3 separate regions of the Homo sapiens genome follow, and regions 2 and 3 are each linked to region 1. Evidence: fine-mapped expression QTL. A gene starts in region 1. Each other region holds a variant in brackets. All regions are shown on one strand. Distances are from middle to middle. Region 1 holds the start of CLEC6A (C-type lectin domain containing 6A). Region 2 holds the start of CLEC4E (C-type lectin domain family 4 member E). Region 3 holds the start of LOC124902872 (a long non-coding RNA gene).

Region 1 (7,032 bases):
TTGTATTCACTTATCTTATTTTTTTATATATATCCCTCATTTAATTTTTTGGTCTTTTCACCACTAGAATTTAGGCTCCATGCTCTTGGACAGAGATTCTGCCTGTTTCCCACAACAATTAATCACAAACACAACTTAAAGGTATCAAAACATCTCATGTACCCCGTAAATATATACACCTACTATGTACCCACAATTTTAAATAATAATTTAAAAATATTTTATTATAAAAAAAGAAGGAAGTCTGAAGGTGAAAACTGATAATTTTTTTTAATCACAAACACCTACAAGGGTAACTGTCACAAAGTCATCAATAAATATTTATGGACTCACTGGATGTCTGCTTCTCCTTAGCCTTAATAACCTTGATGCAAGCACACAGGTTATTTTGATGTTTTCTAGATAATTCTAGCTGCAGGTAGCCACACATAAACATATGGGCTAAGTAACCACCAAGGGGAAACTTTAAACGTTTATAAAAATATTTTTAATGTCTCAAATGAACATTAACTTTTATGTTAATGTTCACTTTCAGCAAGACCTTTTATCTCTCAGGATCTGATCTGATTCTTCACTCATTTCTTTTTTGTCCTTCTATAACTAGAGCTCAATACAACCAAATCTTTCTGCCCCGCTCTTAGTTCATGTTTTGAGATCCTGAATTTGTGTTTCTTTTTATGAAATAACTATTCTTAAACCCCCTTCTCTCTTGCACTTGATTATGAAAAGTAAAACAGATTCTAACTTTGGTGATAATTATTTGTATTTTACTAAATATTGTGAGATTTATTTAAATCTCTGAGGGAACTATAGCTACAACCTGATTGACAGGGGAAGTCACTTTCACTCCCTCCCAGACTATTCAATACCCATTTTTAATCACCTTATCAATGAATAGAAATCCAAATTGTGAATCGGAGAGGAAAAAGGTCTTTAAGACTTCTCACACAATGAACTTGAGACATGTATTTGGAGGCAAGCAGAACAGGGAAGAAATATTTTATCCTCTTTATCTCCATCATTTCATTTGAATACTTTTTCCTCTCACATTGGAAAGGATCTGCACATGAATCAAAGAATCTAATATAGAATATGACAATTATGACAGCAATTAGAGTTGCACTCCCAATACAAGAGTTTTGTCACCAGGGAACACACAATTACTAGTGAATCCAGTCCTGAAAGATGGTGTCTTAGATGATGGCTACAATGGACAACATGGATATGTGAGGCCATGATTCAGAAAATGCTAATAAAACCAGGTAAAGTACATCTACAAGAATTCAGTTTTCAAAAGATAGAGGGAGAAAAACAAAGGGAAAAGGAGAAATCAAGGAAAGTGTGGCATTCCAAGTAAGAGCTGACGTATTAATGGGGCAAAGGAGAATATATCCTAGGAAACCTGTATGGAATATTCAAGGGAAAGGAAGCAAGGAAAATGCACCTCAGTGAAGAACTTACCTACACAGCTCACAATGAAGCAAGCACTGAGGAGTGCAATGGAAATCCCAGCCACAGACCAGAGTCTCAGGGACAACCAGCCTCTTTTCTCTGTCCAATCAGGAAGACAACAAATGCAGTTACCAGGGGGCCAGGGAGCCAAAATCCCCAGGAAGCTTACAACAATGAACAAACTAGATGAAGAACCTCAGAGCAGTTAAAAACTTAAAGCAAGAAGACAGCTTACAAACTCCCTCAGAATAAATAACCAGGTAGTAGCTCTGTGGTCCAAAAGAATACAGGTAAAACATACACTCAACCAACTGGAATTTCCATGTCTTTATTCTTTCTTCTAAACTATTACATGTTTCCATTGATTTCGTTTCTCAAAACATCACTTTTGTCTCCCATTTCTCATATCTCTGTATTGATATTTGGTTTCTTCAGTATATCCAAGAGATATCTGCACTCCCATGTTTATTGTAGCACTATTCACAGTAGCCAAGATATGAAAGCAACCTAAGTGTCCATCAACAGATGAATGGATAAAGAAAATGTAGTATAATATATACAATGGCATATTATTCCACCATAAAAAAGAATAAAATCCTGCCATTTGCAACAGCACAGATGGAACCAGAGGACATCGTGTTAAGTGAAATGAGCCAGGCACAGAAAGACAAACATTGCATATTCTGACTCATATGTGGGAGTTAAAAAAATTGATCTCATGGAGGTAGTGAATAGAATGGTGGTTACCAGAGGCCAGGAAGGTTAACTGGGAAGAGAAGATAGAGAAGGGTTGTTTCGTACCTACAAAAATACAATTAGCTAGAAGAAATAAAATCTAGTGTCCCTTAGCACAGCAGGATAACTGTAGTTAACTTTTTTTTTTTTTTGACATGGAGTCTCACTCTGTCACCCAGGCTGAAGCACAATGAGGCAATCTTGGCACCCTGCAACCTCCACCTCCTGGGTTCAAGTGATTCTCCTGCCTCAGCCTCCTGAGTGGCTAGGATTACAGGTGCATGCCACCATGCCCAGCTAAGTTTTGTCTTTTTATTAGAGACGGGATTTCACCATGTTGGCCAGGCTGGTCTCTAACTCCTGACCTCAAGTGATCCACCCACCTCAGCCTCCCAAAGTGCTGAGATTACAGGTGTGAGCCACTGAGCCTAACCCAACAATAATTTATTGCATATGTCAAAATAGCTAGAAGAGTAGATTTGGAATGTTCCAAACACAAAGACATGATAAATATTTGAGGTGATGGATAATGTAATTTTCCAGACTTTACCATTACGCATCATATTCTTGTGTCAAAATATGACATGGAGCCCATAAACATGCACAACTATTTTGTATCCATAAAAAATTTTAATAAAAATTTTTTTAAAACATTATTGATGGACATGCAAAGGGTTGAAGCTAAAGTCAAATTTTCATGCATTAAAAATGGGAAGCTTTTCTCTTACAAAAAAATTAGAAAAGCAAGTACAAAAAAACTTAGGGTAATTGGAAAGAGTACTGCTTCCTGGATTTCAAAATTAGTCAAAAGACTTTGAAGAGCAGACATCCAATAATCAGTTATTTCCCTGTTTACCTTCTATCATGTAAATCTTTTCTGTCTCCCTAAACTATCAATAAAATCTGGTACAAACCTCCCAAAAAATATTTGCTTTCTTATTCTTTCAAGTGCTTATGGCTCTGGCTCTGAAGAATTACTCTTTCTTTCAAATTCCTTTGAGTCTACTATATTGGTCCAATCACTAGCTCTTCAATCTGTTCTTTGGCTACTTCTTCTCTCCAGGTGATCTCATTTCACCATACACTTCCACTTTCCTCTGAAACTGAGGAAATACTCACCTGTACTTTGAGGTTGCTGCTCTTGCATCATTATGCAGGCTCCCTGTGTTGAGAAGGTCCAGGAACCTTTTGTACCTCTCTCCCTAAAGATGTTGCCCAGAGACTCAGCTTCATTTAAAGAAGCTAGAGCTCAGGGACAAACTGCTACACACTCTTATAGGACTAAGAGACTTCCAACATTAAGTGTACCTCAAAAGAAGAAGTCACAATTACAACTAAAGTTTCCAGTGATTTCGATACGTGGGGTTAAAAAAAACAAAAGAGGAATTGAGAAACATTGAAAACCATTCATGAGAACTTTGACAAGAATACTTAGATCATTTCTTCAGTTTCTAACATAAAATTTCTCTGTCTGATTCCTATTCATTCTGGCATGCAAAATAGAAAATTTTTTATCTCCTAAAAGACATCTATTTAGAGAACTTGGTTAAATTAAGTGCTCCCTAACTAACCTTTACATTGGCTGCTTATTTTATGCAAGCCTTAATCCATGTGTTGAACAGTGTCCTAGGTAGTAAGCAAAAGTTTGATTGGATGGATATGGTTTAGATATGAAGGGTAACATAGTAAATAACAAAACCCATGAACATTGTTAAGGAATGTGACTGCAAAATGAAACATTCTGAAATCAGTCTGCAAAGGTGATGAAACATTCTTACTGCATCCAGACTAATATTGGGCAGATGTCAGTGATATTTTGTAATCTCCCTGATTAGGCAAAAGGGAGCCTGAAGTGATATAAAATCAGAAACAGGCTTCATGAATTTTATATTGTAGCACAGAAAATATATGATGTTTTCTTGTCCTCATAGATTCTTAGTAGAGACACTGTCCTGAAAACAAAAGGCAGAGAAACAAGAGAAAAAGCAGCAGTTTATCAATGTGTGTTATACCCATCACTCAGGAGAGAACTCAGTTCAAATGTATTTATCTCTTTCATGGCAGTGGCTTACAGGCCTTGCTTAAATAGTATGTTAACAAACAGCCATAAATCTATGGAGTGCTGAGAACGAAAAAAAAAAAAAACTGTTATTTGAGGAATGTGAGTGCCTTGAAACTATCAAGTCCAGAGTGGACTCATGAGAGAGATATGACAGGAGTCATGCCTCACTGCCACCTTGCACGAAATTTACCTCTTGAAGCCATTTGCTATGTAGGTTCTAGACTAACTGAACCCTAAAATTTAACAGTATACAGCTAATTACTAATCAATGTGGTTTCTGTAAACCAATGATAATTTACTGATGAGTAACTTTTTAATTCACTCCCTCTCCTGATTCATTCTTTTTTTAATTTTTATTTTTCCATAAGTTATTGAGGTACAGGTGGTATTTGGTTACATGAGTAAGGTTTTTAGTGGTGATTTGTGAGATTTTTGTGCACCCATCACCCAAGCAGCATACCCTGCACCATATTTGTAATATTTTATCCCTCATCCCCCTCCCACTCTTCCCCCCAAGTCCCCAAAGTCCATTGTACCATTCTTATACATTTTGTGTCATCGTAGCTTAGCTCCCCATATCATTGAGAACATATGATGTTTGGTTTTCCATTCCTGAGTTACTTCACTTAGGATAATAGTCTCCAATCTCATCCAGGTCAGTGCAAGTGCTATTAATACATTGCTTCTTATGACTGAGTAGTGGTCCATTGTATATCTATACCACAGTTTCTTTATCCACTCATTGATTGATGAGCATTTGGGATGGTTCCATGATTTTTCAGATTCATTCTTTTTTCTTTAAAATCTTCAGTCTTTCCTTTGCTCTCTAGACCACTTCCCAAGGCAACCTACAAGTGTTTTCCTGGGTAGCTGTCCTCATCCTTTGCCCAAATAAACTCTCTATATTAATGTGGCTTCAGCTACTTCCTTTAGGATGATAGTGAAAAGACAAAGAAGAGAGTATCTTCACGATTCCAAAAGGAAATGAAATACAGGAAGGTATTTTAACAGGAAGAGTAAAATCTGCTTCTAAATCCTTTTACAAGTATCGTAAAGGAGCTAATCCTTAGCTGGGAAAAGTAGAAAGGAAGACAGGAAGACCTTTGTCTTTGTAAATTGTTGTTCTGCCAACAGGCAAGAAGAAGGAGGGGAAGAATGTTCTCCTACATTGCCACCTTTTTCAGCTCAACAATTTGCAGTTATCTTAGAGAAGGTTATTTTGGTTTCCTCCAATCATTACCTAAGGGCTTTGAAATACTTAATCATTCACATGCAGTCTCTAAAATGTAGATCATTCTATTAACATCACAAACAGCTCCACATTCTCAAGTGAGCAATCTTGTATACAAGAAAATCTACTAGAATATTGAACTTGTGATATTATAAGAAACATGTATATTTCATTTTTGTTTATCACAGAGCTTCTGAAACCCTAAAACTTCCTGGTTGATAGAAATGATTTGGTTACAATGTTTGGGTTTTGTCCTCAGCTTCTCAACCATGTTCTAGAGTAATAAAGGTGTAAGAAAAATCTTATGTTATCTATTTGTTTTTTGTTCCAAGTTTCTGAAATAGCTCCAGGGCAATAAAAGATGAAAGAAAAAAATTAACAATAGTTACCTAACTGAACATTAAAAAAAAAATTTTAAGATGAAAAGAGAGTCTTTTATGATTCATAACAAGTTTAACCAAGCCTGGTGTCTATGCTCGTGAGGTAACTCTTGATGTTCCCCAAGACTGCTTCAGGATGGGGGCTGGTTGCCAGAGGAACCAACCATGTGACTAGAGGATGGAAACTTTCAGCCCCACTCCTCCGGGGAAGAAAAAGGCCTGGAGATTGAGTTCAGTCACTAATGGCTAATGATGTAACCAACCATGCCTTCATAATAGAGCCTCCATAAAAACCTCTCAACAATGGTTTTAAACTGAACAGGGATTTTTAAAGTGACAAGATAGTTACAGCTATAGCGAATGATGAAATAGACATTGAGTAACAGGATAAAAGCTCAGAAAACTTCCCCAATGGTTAATTTGAGATGCATTTGATCATAAAAGGACAAGAGAGAAGAAGTGGTTATAAGATGTCAACATTTGTTTCCAGTTCCCGTCAGAGACAAAGAAACACAAACCCAAGGATTGAATCACTTGGTGGTCCAGTAAAAGAATGCATTCTCCTCAGCTATCTGGAGGTAAAGTAGTTTAAACACTTCTTTGGTTCTCATCTGTCTCCTATTATGCTCCCCTAATCACGTTCTGGTCTTGACCATTAGCAACCCTATGCTCCATTCTCTTTGCTTCTTTCTATTTATTTGTCCTGTATAAATTTCTAGATTACAGTGACATGCCTTTGAATCAAGAGCGCTGAAATGGTAGGAGCAAAGGCAAAAAGAAGAGATGCACCAATATAAAATATAATATAATATAAAACAAAATCAAGAGAGAGAATGCTAAATCAGAGCAAAAGCAGAATTGTGGGCAGGCTCAGGCCACATCTCCAAACAAACATTAAGTTCTTTGAGCCTGTCCAGGGAGTAATGCAAAAACAAGCAATGGAGAAGATGGGAACTACTAGAGATTGAAAATAAAAGCATATACTAGTATACCAGTAGACAAAGTGAAAATTGTTGTTTTGGCTTGATCTCTTTTAAATGAGATGTGAGAGGTGAACTAACAATATGAACTAAATCCTTTTCCTAAAAGGAGTATTGGGTTGTTCTTTTGAAAACTGGTATCCATGATTGGATCTATCCATGATTGAACTAAGCAGGCACAACTTGATTCTC
Region 2 (7,032 bases), 85 kb before region 1:
AGAAATGAAATGCACAGAATTCCCTCCTTGAATAGAAAGGAGATACTCAAGAATGTGAAATGGGGTTACCCAATGCATGCACAGTCAGGTGGCTGACAGGTCACCATAAATTTGGTTCCCCTGAGGAGTTGGCTAAACCTATAGCTGAATAGGCCCCTCTCTCTGGTCAGCTGTCAAGGCAGCAGTGTGGCTTACAGATAGATGGCAGTTCAAGGGTAAAGGGCTGGCCGTCAACCTGGGAAGCAGCAGCCCTGGGATCAGTTAGTGATTGCATGTTAGATGAAAAGACAAAAAATAAATCTGCCCCAAGGCTAAAATTGAGTGATGTTTCTCTTGGCATCAAAGAAAAGTAGATACTAACAATACTCGTATGGCATAGATGTTTACAGCTTTTACTGATTCTTTTTCAGTTGCCTGAAATATTGACAGGCAATATAGTTTAGAAAAGGGACTTAGACGATAAGTTCCTGGATGATATTTAAAAAGGGAAATCAAAGAATCTATTGCTGAACAACAGGTGCTGGAGAGGATGTGGAGAAATAGGAATGCTTTTACACTGTTGGTGGGACGTAAACTAGTTCAACCATTGTGGAAGTCAGTGTGGAGATTCCTCAGGGATCTAGAACTAGAAATACAATTTGACCCAGCCACCCCATTACTGGGTATATACCCAAAGGATTATAAATCATGCTGCTATAAAGACACATGCACACGTATGTTTATTGTGGCACTATTCACAATAGCAAAGACTTGGAACCAACCCAAATGTCCATCAATGATAGACTGGATTAAGAAAATGTGGCACATATACACCATGGAATACTATGCAGCCATAAAAAATGATGAGTTCATGTCCTTTGTAGGCACATGGATGAAGCTGGAAACCATCATTCTCAGCAAACTATCGCAAGAACAAAAAACCAAACACCGCATGTTCTCACTCATAGGTGGGAATTGAACAATGAGAACACTTGGACCCAGGAAGGGGAACATCACACTCTGGGGACTGTTGTGGGGTGGGGGGAGGGGGGAGGGATAGCATTAGGAGATATACCTAATGCTAAATGACGAGTTAATGGGTGCAGCACACCAGCATGGCACATGTATGCATATGTAACAAACCTGCACGTTGTGCACACGTACCCTAAAGCTTAAAGTGTAATAAAAGATAAATAAAAATAAATAAAAATTAATCCCCCCCCCCAAAAAAGAAATCATTAAGCATGGTCAACTTTAGAAGAATGCACTAAGGATAGTTAAGAAGGCTTTTACTTGTCACATGCTTTTCATAGTATTAATCATAAAACATATTACTCGTATAATTTGGGGAAAATCAATGAAACAAAAGATATAAAAACATTTTGGCTGGAAAAAATATTAATTTATTGATTTCTGTTTAATTGTATATTGATAAAAATTAACATACAATTGTTTAGTAATATTGATGGTTGCTGGTTGATTGTAATTAATAAAAGATGGACTGTGGTAATTATGTTCATCATTTTATAATTCATATAGCTCATCCACTAGATAGTTTCTCTTTTTTTACTGATCAAAAGCTATTTGCTGAGAATACACATATTAAATATGGGTATATTCTATAATATACACATATATAATTTAAAGATATTTTTAAAATTGTATTACTATAAAACAGAGAATGCAGAGAAAATTGACCAGTACCTTGAAATAATAAAAAGTCCCTTTGAGAACAAGAATATTTTCTCACACATGGAAAATTCGTGAGTCACTGGATGTGGGGATTTACCAAGTCATGTACATCATACTTATGCCTCCTGACTCGTGAACTTAAATAAACTGAGACCAGTGTGATCTTATTCTTAAGTATCTTTAAGTAAGGAGAAGGCACATATCTAACTATTCTTCCAGAGAAGCATTAATTCTTTTTTTTTTTTTTTTTTGAGACAGAGTCTCACTCTATCGCCCAGGCTGGAGTGCAGTGGTGCAATTTTGGCTCACTGCAACCTCTGCCTCCCAGGATCAAGCTATTCTCCTGTCTCAGCCTCTCAAGTATCTGGAATTACAGATGCGTGCCACCACACTTGGCTAATTTTTGTATTTTTAGTAGAGGTGGGGTTTCACCATGTTGGCCAGGCTGGTCTCAAACTCCTGACCTCAAATGATCCACCCACCTTGGCCTCCCAAAGTGTTGGAATTACAGGCATGAGCCACTGCTCCCGGCCCAGAGAACCATTAAATTCTAATATCTAATTGAAATTGCTTTTTCTGACCTTCAAATACATTTCTCCTACTGTAGGCTGTAACATAGAACTAAAATCCCCAAATAATTGAGAACAGGAGAATTAAACTGCCTGCTGGGTCTCTGAGACTTCAGAAGCTGCGTTATGTTGTGAAAAACTAAGCTGAGTTTCAAAGTGGTCTAATCACATGAGGCTGTCCTGCTGAGGGGGACTCTAGTAGTCAGCCTAGTAGTAGCAGCCTAGTAGTCAGCATAAGATAAGAGGGACATAAATCCACAACATTAGAATATTCAAGAGCTGCAAATGAAGAAGAAAGAAAAACCATAAAAGATGAAAAAGAGGACGGGCGCGGTGGCTCACGCCTGTAATCTCAGGACTTTGGGAGGCTGAGGCGGGCGGATCACGAGGTCAGGAAATTGAAACCATCCTGACGACCACAGTGAAACCCCGTCTCTGCTAAAAATACAAAAAATTAGCCAGGCGTGGTGGCGAGCGCCTGTAGTCCCAGCTACTCGGGAGGCTGAGGCAGGAGAATGGCTTGAACCCGGGAGGCGGAGCTTGCAGTGAGCGGAGATCATGCCACTGCACTCCAGCCTGGACGACAGAGCGAGACTCTGTCTCAAAAAAAAAAAAAAAAAAAAAGATGAAAAAATTCAGGTTGCCATGTCCTAAATACATACACTATATGCCCAGCTTTGTGCTATGTTGTCTAAGTCTTCTTTTCAGTTACCAAATGTGTGGATGGTACAGATCCAAAGTGAAATTCAGAGTGCAGAGGTGAGCTCCATATTGTCAAGGAAAAACTGGGGGATGAGTTATGCCTTGAAGAAACTAGAGACATTTGGTCCAACGAAACGAAACAACATTTAAAAAAAAAACTCTCCTGTTTCCCCATGGCTAGCCTATTTGTGTTGATGCTTACCATTTCATAATTTCCTCATTTTGTTGTTACATGGAGTGAAGAGAACTGACATGCTGTCCAATAAACTTCCTTGTCCTCCTTATGCAAGAAAGGAAATCCTGACTTAATGCGTAGCCACAGAACAAGTTAATATTCTACATCTATCGGAGCTGAACTTCCTAAAAGACAAAGTGTTTATCTTTCAAGATTCATTCTCCCTGAATCTTACCAACAAAACACTCCTGAGGAGAAAGAAAGAGAGGGAGGGAGAGAAAAAGAGAGAGAGAGAA[A/G]CAAAAAACCAAAGAGAGAGAAAAAATGAATTCATCTAAATCATCTGAAACACAATGCACAGGTAAAATCTGCAACTCTTCCTTTCCTTCCATAGATCTCTTTTTGGAACAAGTGATAAATATGGTGAAAGACAGGACAATAGAAAAGTATTCACTGAAGTTAAAAAAAAAAGTGGGGGGACAGAGGAAGAGAGAGAGAGAGATTTAAAGACTATTTCTTATACCAGAAAGCCTGCTGGCCTCTAGCTAAGGGAGAGCTATCAGTTTCCACCCTTTCTGCAATACATTGTGTCCCTTTTGGCAAGTCACTTCACTTCTCTGGAACTCTCTTTGTCTGTAAAATGTTTAATGGGAGGAAGAGAGGAACTATTAGATGACTGTTAACATTTTACCTAATTTACAAAGCGCTTGAAAAGTGAGACACAGAAAAAAAAAAAAGATCAGGAGAAGGACAAGAAAAGCAAAGACGAGAAAAGGGAAAAGAAAGAAAAAGAAAGAAGGGGGGCCTTAGAAAATACTGAAAAAAATTTAACTGAGAGACTTAGAAAGGAAAAATTGTATATCTGAGTTCATGAGTCAGAGTCTTACTCCAGGGGTGCTAAACGTGTGGTCCTCAGACCAGCAGCAGCAGTAGCCCCTGGGAACTTGTTGGTTCCATACAAACTCTACTGAGTTGCTAACTCTGGGGGTAAGGGTCAGCAATCTGTGTTTCCATAAACCCTCCAAGTGATTCTGAAGCATGCTGAAATTTGGGAATTACTCAGTACAAACAATGGAAGTAGAAGGAAATAAGTAAGGATGAATAAGAATCTCTTCTATCTCTTTTGTACCTTGCTTAGGGAAGATTGATCATGTTTGTGTCTTTCTTTCTACAGAGAGAGGATGCTTCTCTTCCCAAATGTTCTTATGGACTGTTGCTGGGATCCCCATCCTATTTCTCAGTGCCTGTTTCATCACCAGATGTGTTGGTGGGTTCTGAAGGTCAAATTCAATTTAATTCTTCCTGGTGCATATTAGGAGAAAACTCTTCCATGCTGCCTGTAGACTCTCTTTGCCCTCAAAGGGTCTTTCTATTTCACCCTTTTTTTTTTCCCTATTAATCTCTAGGTTATTTCTCAAACCAGAAACCTCAACAAGCAGGGAACTGTTTCTGAATTTTAATCACCTGTGACTTACTTTTCATGATAGACATTTTTCACTTCCTTGGCAGTCCTGAATCCTCCTCTTTCAGCCTCTATCATTAGTGTAACCTTCTCTAGGAGAGTCTGCCTTAGAGCTTGAACTACTGGTCGGCACCAGAGATATGACTAATTACTTTTGGAAGGAAGGGTAGAGAGAGTTGGACTTGGCATAAGAGGTAGTGCAAACATATCTATTTTCTCTGGGTCGTAAGAAAAAGCAGATTGTAAGAAAAAACATGATAATTATTGGCACTTTTGTTATAAATACAAAACTGAGGGAACTGACATTTTTAACCGAAATAAGACTAACAAACATTATGCCCTTTCTTTTACAGTGACATTTCGCATCTTTCAAACCTGTGATGAGAAAAAGTTTCAGCTACCTGAGAATTTCACAGAGCTCTCCTGCTACAATTATGGATCAGGTATAATAGTCCCAAAGGTGAACATCAAAATTTACAAAGCAACATTTTCTGGCTTCTAGATTGACTTTGGGACAGGTGAGATATAGCTGGATTAGGTCTTATTTTTCAAAAGCAAAATGTAAAATCCTAGAAATTTGGTGATGCAATTAGCATTGGGGCAGAAAGTCTTGGGGACATTATAGTAAACTTTTAGAATAAATTTGAGGGGTATGTCTGAACAGTAAATCTGGAAGTGGAAGGTATTATTCCCAGGAGTGTACCTTTTTTTTCATTCACCTACTTCCAAAATGAGATGGAGAAAAAACGTATGGAGTAGAGAATTTATAAATATCTCACAAATATACTCTCTATGCTCTTCTATGTCATCCTGTTGCAAGTCCTAGCAAAATGCTACATGACACTAAAAAAGTGACTTCCTTCTCTGAGCTATAATTTTCTCACCATTAAATTGAGAGAAGTTAGAAGAATTATTTATAATAGACCTCAAAGGCAAAAGTTCTGTAATTCTAAGAAATCTAACTGTAGGGACCAGCCCCACAGGGTTGGTGGGTCTCTCCCTGTGTCCAGAGACGAGAGCATGTAGAAATAAAGACACAAGACAAAGAGATAAAAGAAAAGGCAGCTGGGCCCAAGGGACCACTACCACCAATGCGCGGAGACCGGTAGTGGCTCCGAATGTCTGGCTGCGCTGTTATTTATTGGATACAAGGTGAAAGGGGCAGGGTAGAGAGTGTGAGTCATCTCCAATGATAGGTAAGGTCATGTGGGTCACGTGTCCACTGGACAGGGGGACCTTCCCTGCCTGGCAGCCGAGGCAGAGAGGGAGAGGAGACAGAGAGAAAGACAGCTTACGCTATTATTTCTGCATATCAGGGACTATTAGTACTTTCGCTAATTTACTACTGCTATCTAGAAGGCAGAGCCAGGTGTACAGGATGGAACATGAAGGCAGACTAGGAGTGTGACCACTGAAGCACAGCATCACAGGGAGACGGTTAGGCCTCCGGATAACTGCGGGCAAGCCTGACTAATGTCAGGCCCTCCACAAGAGGTGGAGGAGCAGAGTCTTCTCTAAACTCCCCCAGGGAAAGGAAGACTCCCTTTTCCTGTCTGCTAAGTAGCGGGTGTTTTCCCTTGACACTTAACGCTACCGCTAGACCACAGTCTGTCTGCCTGGCCACGGGCGTCTTCCCAGACGCTGGCGTCACCGCTAGACCAAGGAGCCCTCTGGTGGCCCTGTCCGGGCATAACGGAAGGCTCGCACTCTTGTCTTCTGGTCACACCTCACTATGTCCCCTCAGCTCGTAGCTCTGTACGGCCTGGTTTTTCCTTGGCTATGATTATAGAGCGAGGATTATTATAATATTGGAATAAAAAGTAATTGCTACAAACTAATGATTAATGATATTCATATATAATCATATCTAAGATCTATATCTGGTATAACTATTCTTGTTTTATATTTTATTATACTGGAACAGCTCGTGTCCTCTGTCTCTTGCCTCAGCGCCTGGGTGGCTTGCCGCCCACATCTAACCCATCTATATACTACAGTATGGAGATTTGATTGAGGATACATTGTTTAGGTAACATAAGAGATGGCTCTTTGGGGGTCACCCAAATAAAATGCATAAATTTCTCTGACATTAGTAGTCTAAGAACAGATAATAAGGTTCTATATCAATAGCATAACTAAGATAGTTTGCATATATAGTTGCATTTCCTGGCACTGACATCCAGAGAATGAGAATTACGTTCAAAAGACCAAAAACATTCTGTTTATGTTTCTTGACATTGGAATTATCTAAAGTCTTAGATACTAAGATGTAGGGTATGAACAAGTGATTCCAAGGCTTCTGACTTAAATGAGGACTCCATGGGGCCAGATGAAGCTTTGGGTTTTCTTATTCGGTTCACCTGGGACACTCACTGAAACATCTCTCATCCTAGGTTCAGTCAAGAATTGTTGTCCATTGAACTGGGAATATTTTCAATCCAGCTGCTACTTCTTTT
Region 3 (7,032 bases), 110 kb before region 1:
CAGGTCTCCTGCACGAAGGAGCCCCACCTCCTGGGCAAGGCTGCAGCTGTCCAAACTGCCACTGTGGATCTGAGCCTCCCTGTGCTCTTGGAGGGGGCCTGGAGCAGACAGGATCTGCCCTCCCAGGTGCAGCTGCAGCTGCCCCACCCATGGCTACAGACCTGGGCCTCCTAATCCACAGAACAGGCAGGAGCTGGGGACAAGTGGGACCCCCACCCCTTCTGAGTTGGTAGTGTGGGAGCTCCCCGGATGCCTCTGCAGCCACCCTCCCAGGTACAGGGCCAGGCATCTCTGCAGCCTTCACCTTCAGGCCTTGGGAAGGCCCCCCAGTCCCTGCAGGCTTGAGGGGATATGCTTCCACTGCCTGGCCTCTCTTCTCTCCCACCACCTGCTTCAATCTCGGGGTGGGGTTGCAGCTGAGCCAGGGACCAAAAATGGCAGTGGGGAGGTGCACAGATTCCTGGGTGGAAGGGGGCGGTCCCCAGTAAGGCCTCTCCTTCAGGCCAGGGAAGCCTTGAAGGCTGGGGGCCCAGCTGCCAGTCCCACAGACTGGAGCGGGGACATGTGGTATCTCCTCTAGGCCCACCCATGGCCAGTCATGGACCAATCGGCAGGCACTTCCTCCCATCTGAGGTCCATAAAAGCCTAGGGCTCAGCCAGAGTAAAGTAGAGGGCAGAGAAAAGCCCTGGGCTCAGCCAGAGAAGGGCAGAGGACAGAGGACTGAGAGAGGACTGGACAACCAGCTGCAAAGAGGAGCTACCTTCTCTGTGAGAGCTTCAGAGACCTGCAGAGACATTGAATGAACTGCCTGCAGAGAGGAGTCACCCTCTCCAAGGTCTTCGCTCTGCTAAGAACAGCAGACAATGGGGCAACCAGTGGGCAGAGAGGAGCTACCCTCTTCAGAGCCTCCTCTCTGCTGAGAGCTGGACACTTGATTGGATGATCTGCCTACAGAGAGGAGCAACCCACTGTGGATTTTCTCTGAGCTGTAACACTCAATAAAGCTCTTCTTTGTCTTGTTCACCTTCCACTTGTCTGCATAGGCAGGATTTGGCACCACTGGCAGTGACACTGTAACATTTTGGGGGCTCATCTGGGATCTCCAAAAGGGTAAGTAAAAGTGGATCTACTTTCTGTCCTTTCTTTTGGAGTCTCTAAACTCCACAATAGTCAAAATGAAAGAAAAATACCAGGCTTCTGTCAACCAGTTAAAAGCAACTAGTGCAGCTGCAGAACTTAAGACATGAAGGACAGGCTTGCTGGGGAGGGACACTGTCAATCCCCCATCAACCTCAGGTGTTGGGAATGTTGGCTTTGTTCTAACCCAATTTCCCTTCATGGAGGTCTAGCCATCTCATGGGACTGGAAGGAGGTCCTGGGGCAACTGAGGGTATCTGGCCAAGGCTACACTTTGGTGTTATTCAAAGGCTCCTGGACTAACTCCAGTCCCCAACTGCCCATTAGGGTGTCCGCACTAGGACCTTCAGCCTTTCCTATTGTTCTTTTCTTTCTTTCATGGCTATCATGGTTCCTATCTCTTTTATATACGATGTTAAATGTAAAGGATGTTGTTGCAAGCCAGAGATATTACTGGGTGGAATGAGCATTTGGCTTGGTCACCAAAGTGTAAGAGTAGCACAGATGTAGCAAAGTGTGTCTTGGTATCTGTATGTAAATTTGTGGTGAAAATGTTCTTGTAATTTACTTGGTTGCCAACTTAGTGCCAAGCACCTTGAGGCACAGAAGAGAAGCCTTGCCTCAGGAAGGAAGCTTTTCTGTAAACATGAGGGCAAAGGGTCCTAGGTCCCTTATGTGCAGGCCTTCTTTGCCTTGCATGTTAACCTGGATCTTTGCCAACATTGTAGGATTGATTCAGCCCTCCTAGTGGCCATCTCAGGAGAGGTTACAAGGGGCAATCCCAAGGAAATAGGGAAGCAAGCCCCAGAGATACCTCTAGGTACCTCTAGAAATCCTCATTTTAGGCAGGTGCCAGTCTCACTCCTGCCCCTACAACAGATGCCTGATGAATATGGCCCTGTTAAGATCCAGGTGCCCTTTTCTCTTCAGGATTTATTGCAAACTAAGGGGGATCTTGGCAGGTTTTCAGATGGCCCTAATAGGTATGTAGAAGCTTTCCAGAAATTAACCCAAGTAACATGGCATCCTGCCATGAGTTCAGTTGGCTATGAGAGTGCAGAGGTGAGCTCCATATTGTCAAGGAAAAACTGGGGGATGAGTTATGCCTTGAAGAAACTAGAGACATTTGGTCCAACAAAACGAAACAACATTTAAAAAAAACTCTCCTATTTCCCCATGGCCAGCCTATTTGTGTTGATGCTTACCATTTCATAATTTCCTCATTTTGTTGTTGCATGGAGTGAAGAGAACTGACATGCTGTCCAATAAACTTCCTTGTCCTCCTTATGCAAGAAAGGAAATCCTGACTTAATGCGTAGCCACAGAACAAGTTAAAAGTGAAATATCTACACAAATTATTTGGAATCCTTCTGTATGAGAAAGGAGATTTGTCTATTTTCCCACATTTATTCATTTATTGACATCAGTATAGACTCATGGATATTTGTTTTATGGTTGGTTTGTAATCCAATGCTACATTATTTATTTTGTTGTTCAAGTTGTTCCAGCTTTGGACTGGGAGCTCTTTCGATTGGCTTCTGTTTTCTACAGCTAAAATTAGTGAAGAGATAATCTTCTGTTATTTCATTTAACCTTCAACCCAACCTTATAAAAATGTCTTTTTGTTATTCTTGTTTTACAAATAAGGGAGCTGAGGTCGAGAGTTTAATTTATGCAGCTGTTGATTGGCAAAGCCAGGATTCGAATAAAAACAGTCTTTAACCAGCATGCTATGTTACTTTCTGTCAATGTCTTCATTCAAAGACCACCAGGAACACACCTGTAGTTAAACAAGTTGTGTTTTTTTTGCAGTGAGGGAAAATGCATGTACATCTCCCCCTTTTCTGTTTTTTGCATCAGGTTTTGTTGATTGAAGAGTACAAATGTGTGCAACAACGGATTTGTCAAGTGTGGTGGTCACTGCTCGCATTCTGGCTTTGCATCCTAGAATTAGTAAATAACATAAGACAAACATGAGTATAATTAGCAACATTCTTTTTCAATCAAGGAGTGACCCCTCCCCCAGGAGTGGGGGTCTGTCTATCCAGGAGAAATGATCTCGCACACCCTTCCATCCTAATATATGAATCTATTGTGAGTACACCATTTCACATTAAGCTCCAAATCGCTGTCAGATTTTTCTTTCATTTGGACAGAGCTATTAATGAGTCACGTAGTTACGCTATTCTTTATGGAGGAAAAGAGTGAATAACCCCTTTTCAGAATATCCTGATGAAGAGAACTTGAAACAACAGAGAATATCAGAGAGGATATGTCCGGTTCATTCTTTTAAGCTACAAATATTTTATTCTATATCAGGATAATCATGAGCATTGAACCCTGACTTCCTGGACTCAAATCCTGGCTTCCCCAAATACTACTTGTGTGACCTTAACTAAATTACTTAATCTGTCTATGCTGCAGTTTCCTTATCTGATTCTGCCACTTACTAGATGTGTGATTTTCAGCAAATCACTCAGTGTCTTGGAACGTTCCTCATCCTTGGGCGCTCCCCTTCGTCTTTGCAGCGCTTGCTTTCGTTGCCTGGCAACGGGACGCGACACCAGGATTGAGCGTTAAGTGCGTGCTTTGGACGAGCGCATTACTGAGGCGGTTTTGACCGTTGGGCCTTGTCATTTGCTAGACTCACCTGGGTCCCCAGTCAGTGCCCGGCTCCTCCTCCTCCACCTCCTCGGGGCGGCACCTGCGGGGCAGGGGGAGCCCCTTCCACAAACCCGGGTAGGAAAACCAAGGTGGAGCGTTGCCAGATTCAATACAGTACCACATGCGCCGTCAACTTTGAATTTCAGATAAACGAGTTACTTTTGAGTACAAATATAGTATCACACAAAGTTATTCGTTGGTTATCTGAAATTCAGAGTTACCTGGGCATGCTGTGTTTATTTGCTGAGTCTGGCACCCCGGCCCGGGCCGCCTCCCTGTCCACTCTGGCTGGGTCTCCCAGGCATGGGCAAGGGACCTCCTTCTACCTCCTGTGGCAACTTCTTCAGGCTGGAGGCAGCTGTCTCTGTGGAAAGGGGCTTTCGTATGTTGAGCCAAGATGCCTATTGATGTATATGACAAATCACACTTAAAACAGGAGAGAT[G/A]GGTTATTCTCATCGTTCAAGGAAACAGGTGCTGAGCGAGATGGCAATCCTTGCCCGTGTCCTACCGATATGTCCACAATTCCCAGACAGGTCCTGGACTTGGGCCGACCCTTAGGAGGGAAATTTCATACGGAAAATTTTTATTTCTATAATCTATAGCTTTTAAAATTAATAAAATGTCGTTTAATGTCTCTTTGAATATGTTACTTATACTTATTTTCTATATTTTGTCTGTTTTTTTAAAAATAGTTTTTGAGTGTAAAGTATTTCATTTGTTGTATTTATTGTCTCATTTTCATGGTCTTGCAAACCAAAAATGAAGATTTCTTCCCAGGGCAATCAAGGAAGAAGACTTTCACTCAATTATCAGCTCCCAAAGTTGAACTTCGATTTAAGCTATTCCCTGCATTTTCTACATGAGAAAACATTAGAGATAATGGTCCCTTTCTCATGTTCATCTTTCTGGAGCAGCAGCAGGAGTCTGTTCCCATTTTTATGTTATTTCACTTCAAGTGACATTGAGATGTCTATGCAGTATTTGTGTCTTTGGATTATATCATACTGAAGAAATACAGTGAAGATACTGTGCTCTGAAGTCAGTTACTTTCCTCTGTGTGGTTAAGGCAGCAATGCCAACTCGATAGGGAATTAGGTTTATTTGTGCCACTTTGTTTTCAGTTTTAATGACTGTATTTACATATACATGCATACACATTCCTTTCCCCGCTGCTTTGTATTCCTTTCCCCAGTACAAAAGATGGCATACTGTGTGCAATTTCTGCACCTTGCTTTCTTCACTTCACCCTGTGTCCTGGAGTTCACACCCTACTTTACAGAGCTTCCGCATTCTCTTGTATATCTGCATAATAATCCATTGTGTTGCTCTGCCTCATCAGTCCTGAATTTGATGAATATTCAGATGGTGCTCCAGTTTGACTTTTGAAAATAATGGTGCAAATAACCATGTGCATCTGCCATTTCATATTTTTGCAAGCATATCTTTGTTTTGTTTTTGTTTCTGTTTGATACAGAGTCTTGCTCTGTCGCCCAGGCTGGAGTGCAGTGGCATTTTGTATCTTAAAGGTATTTTCTGACTTTCTTGTACCTGGAAGTCTACTTCTCTAGTAAGATTAGATAATTTTTTCTGAATTATTCTTTTAAATATGCTTTCCAGGTTGCTTATCTTTTCTTCTCTTCCAAGAATGCCTGTAAGTCATAGGTTTGGTCACTTTACATAATCCCATATTTCTTGAATTTTCATTTTTTAAAAATTCTTTTTTTCTTTATTTTTATTTGACTGAGTTAATTTGAAAGAGCAGTCTTCAGGCTCTGAAATTCCTTCTTCTGCTTGACCTAATCTATTATTAAAGCTTTCAAATATATTTTGAAAATCTTTAAGTGAATTTTTCATTTTTAGAACTTCTGTTTTTTAGATATCTATCTCTTCATCTCCTGGATTGCTTTCATGGTTTCTTTGTGTTGGTTTTCAAGCTTCTCTTGGATCTCATTGAGCTTCCTTGCAATCCATACTTTGTATTTTTCATCTGTCATTTCTGAGTGTTCATCTTGGTTAAGGTCTATTGATCCTTAGGTGGTGTCACAGCATTCAGATTTTTCATGGTGCAATAATCCTTACTCTGGTTTCTTCTCATTTGGGGAAGCTGACACTTCTTATTTTTAAATTTATTTTCATTTTGATGGGTTTTTTTCCCACTATTATTCCCCTTCCCCTGGGGGCGTGACTGTGGAAATGTTGGGTAGGGTCTTTTGGTTTTGCTTCTATAGATAGCCAGGTGCACTTTACTCTGCAGGTTTTACATTGAGCTGTGCAGTTTGACCTCCAGGCCAGTAGGCGGTGCCACCAGCCCATTTACGAGAGGGTTAATTGCGGTCACTCTGCAGACCTCTTTCTAATAATGGCCATTGTTGTTATCTCTCCCCTGCCCCTGACGTGGCTCTCTCAAAATCCTATTTGGGTAGAACAGTGACCTTTAAAGGGAGAGAAATTGCAAAGAGCCCATGAATTAGTTGAGGAGCAATTAAAAGCCGGCCATACAGAACCGTCAAACAACCCTTGGAATTCGCCCATTTTCGTCATCCCCAAAAAGTCTGGTAAATGGAGACTTTTGCATGCCTTGCGTGCTATCAATGCTAATTTGCAACCTATGGGGCCCCTTCAGTAGGGGCTCCCCTCCCCTGCAGCGATTCCTTGAGATTGGCCTATAATCGTTATTCACTTAAAAGACTGTTTTTATACTATTCCCCTTGCAGAACAGGACAGAGAAAAATTTGTGTTTACAATACCAGCTATCAATAATGAAAGGCCAGCTCACCGATTTCATTGGAAAGTGCTACCCCAAGGAATGCTGAGCAGTCCTACCATGTGTCAGTATCATGTAAATCAGGCTTTGCTCCCCAGTAGAAAAGAATTTCCTAATTGCAAGATTATTCATTTTATGGATGATATTTTACTAGCAGCCCCAACAGAGCCAGTACTTTTAAAGTTACGTGCCTCTGTCATAAGGAATACACAGTTAAGAGGTTTAATCGTAGCACCTGAAAAAGTACAAATTTCCTCTCCTTGGAAATACCTTGAGTATATACTAACTACCCGGTCAGTAAGACCCCAAAATGTTAAATTAAATACTGGCAACTTACATACCTTGAATGATTATCAGAAATGACTAGGTGATATTAACTGGCTTCGCCCAACCTTGGGCATAACTACTGATAAGTTACAGAACCTGTTGTCTATCTTAAAAGACAATGCTGCCCTAGACTCTCTAG

Evidence for each region. PIP is the estimated chance that this variant, and not a neighbour inherited with it, causes the effect.
Region 2: its variant is fine-mapped to the expression of CLEC6A in whole blood (TOPMed, PIP above 0.99). The same link has a PIP of 0.9 or more in blood mononuclear cells and monocytes.
Region 3: its variant is fine-mapped to the expression of CLEC6A in whole blood (TOPMed, PIP above 0.99).

What each region holds. Positions count from the first base shown.
Region 1 is chr12:8,452,417-8,459,448 of GRCh38, reverse strand. It overlaps CLEC6A (C-type lectin domain containing 6A), which reads right to left and starts at 3,487. Exons shown (of 6, transcript NM_001007033.2): 1 at 3,307-3,487; 2 at 1,462-1,551. The coding sequence starts at 3,337.
Region 2 is chr12:8,537,204-8,544,235 of GRCh38, reverse strand. It overlaps CLEC4E (C-type lectin domain family 4 member E), which reads left to right and starts at 3,331. Exons shown (of 6, transcript NM_014358.4): 1 at 3,331-3,475; 2 at 4,289-4,381; 3 at 4,930-5,019; 4 at 6,970-7,032. The coding sequence starts at 3,439. The variant A/G (reference allele first, on the strand shown) is at 3,414.
Region 3 is chr12:8,561,573-8,568,604 of GRCh38, reverse strand. LOC124902872 (a long non-coding RNA gene) reads left to right here and starts at 669. Exons shown (of 3, transcript XR_007063203.1): 1 at 669-1,111; 2 at 2,380-3,877. It overlaps LOC105369645 (a long non-coding RNA gene), which reads right to left and starts at 4,114. Exons shown (of 4, transcript XR_007063201.1): 1 at 4,024-4,114; 2 at 3,789-3,935; 3 at 3,589-3,682; 4 at 2,532-3,082. RefSeq lists enhancers at 3,325-3,956, 4,591-5,223. The variant G/A (reference allele first, on the strand shown) is at 4,246.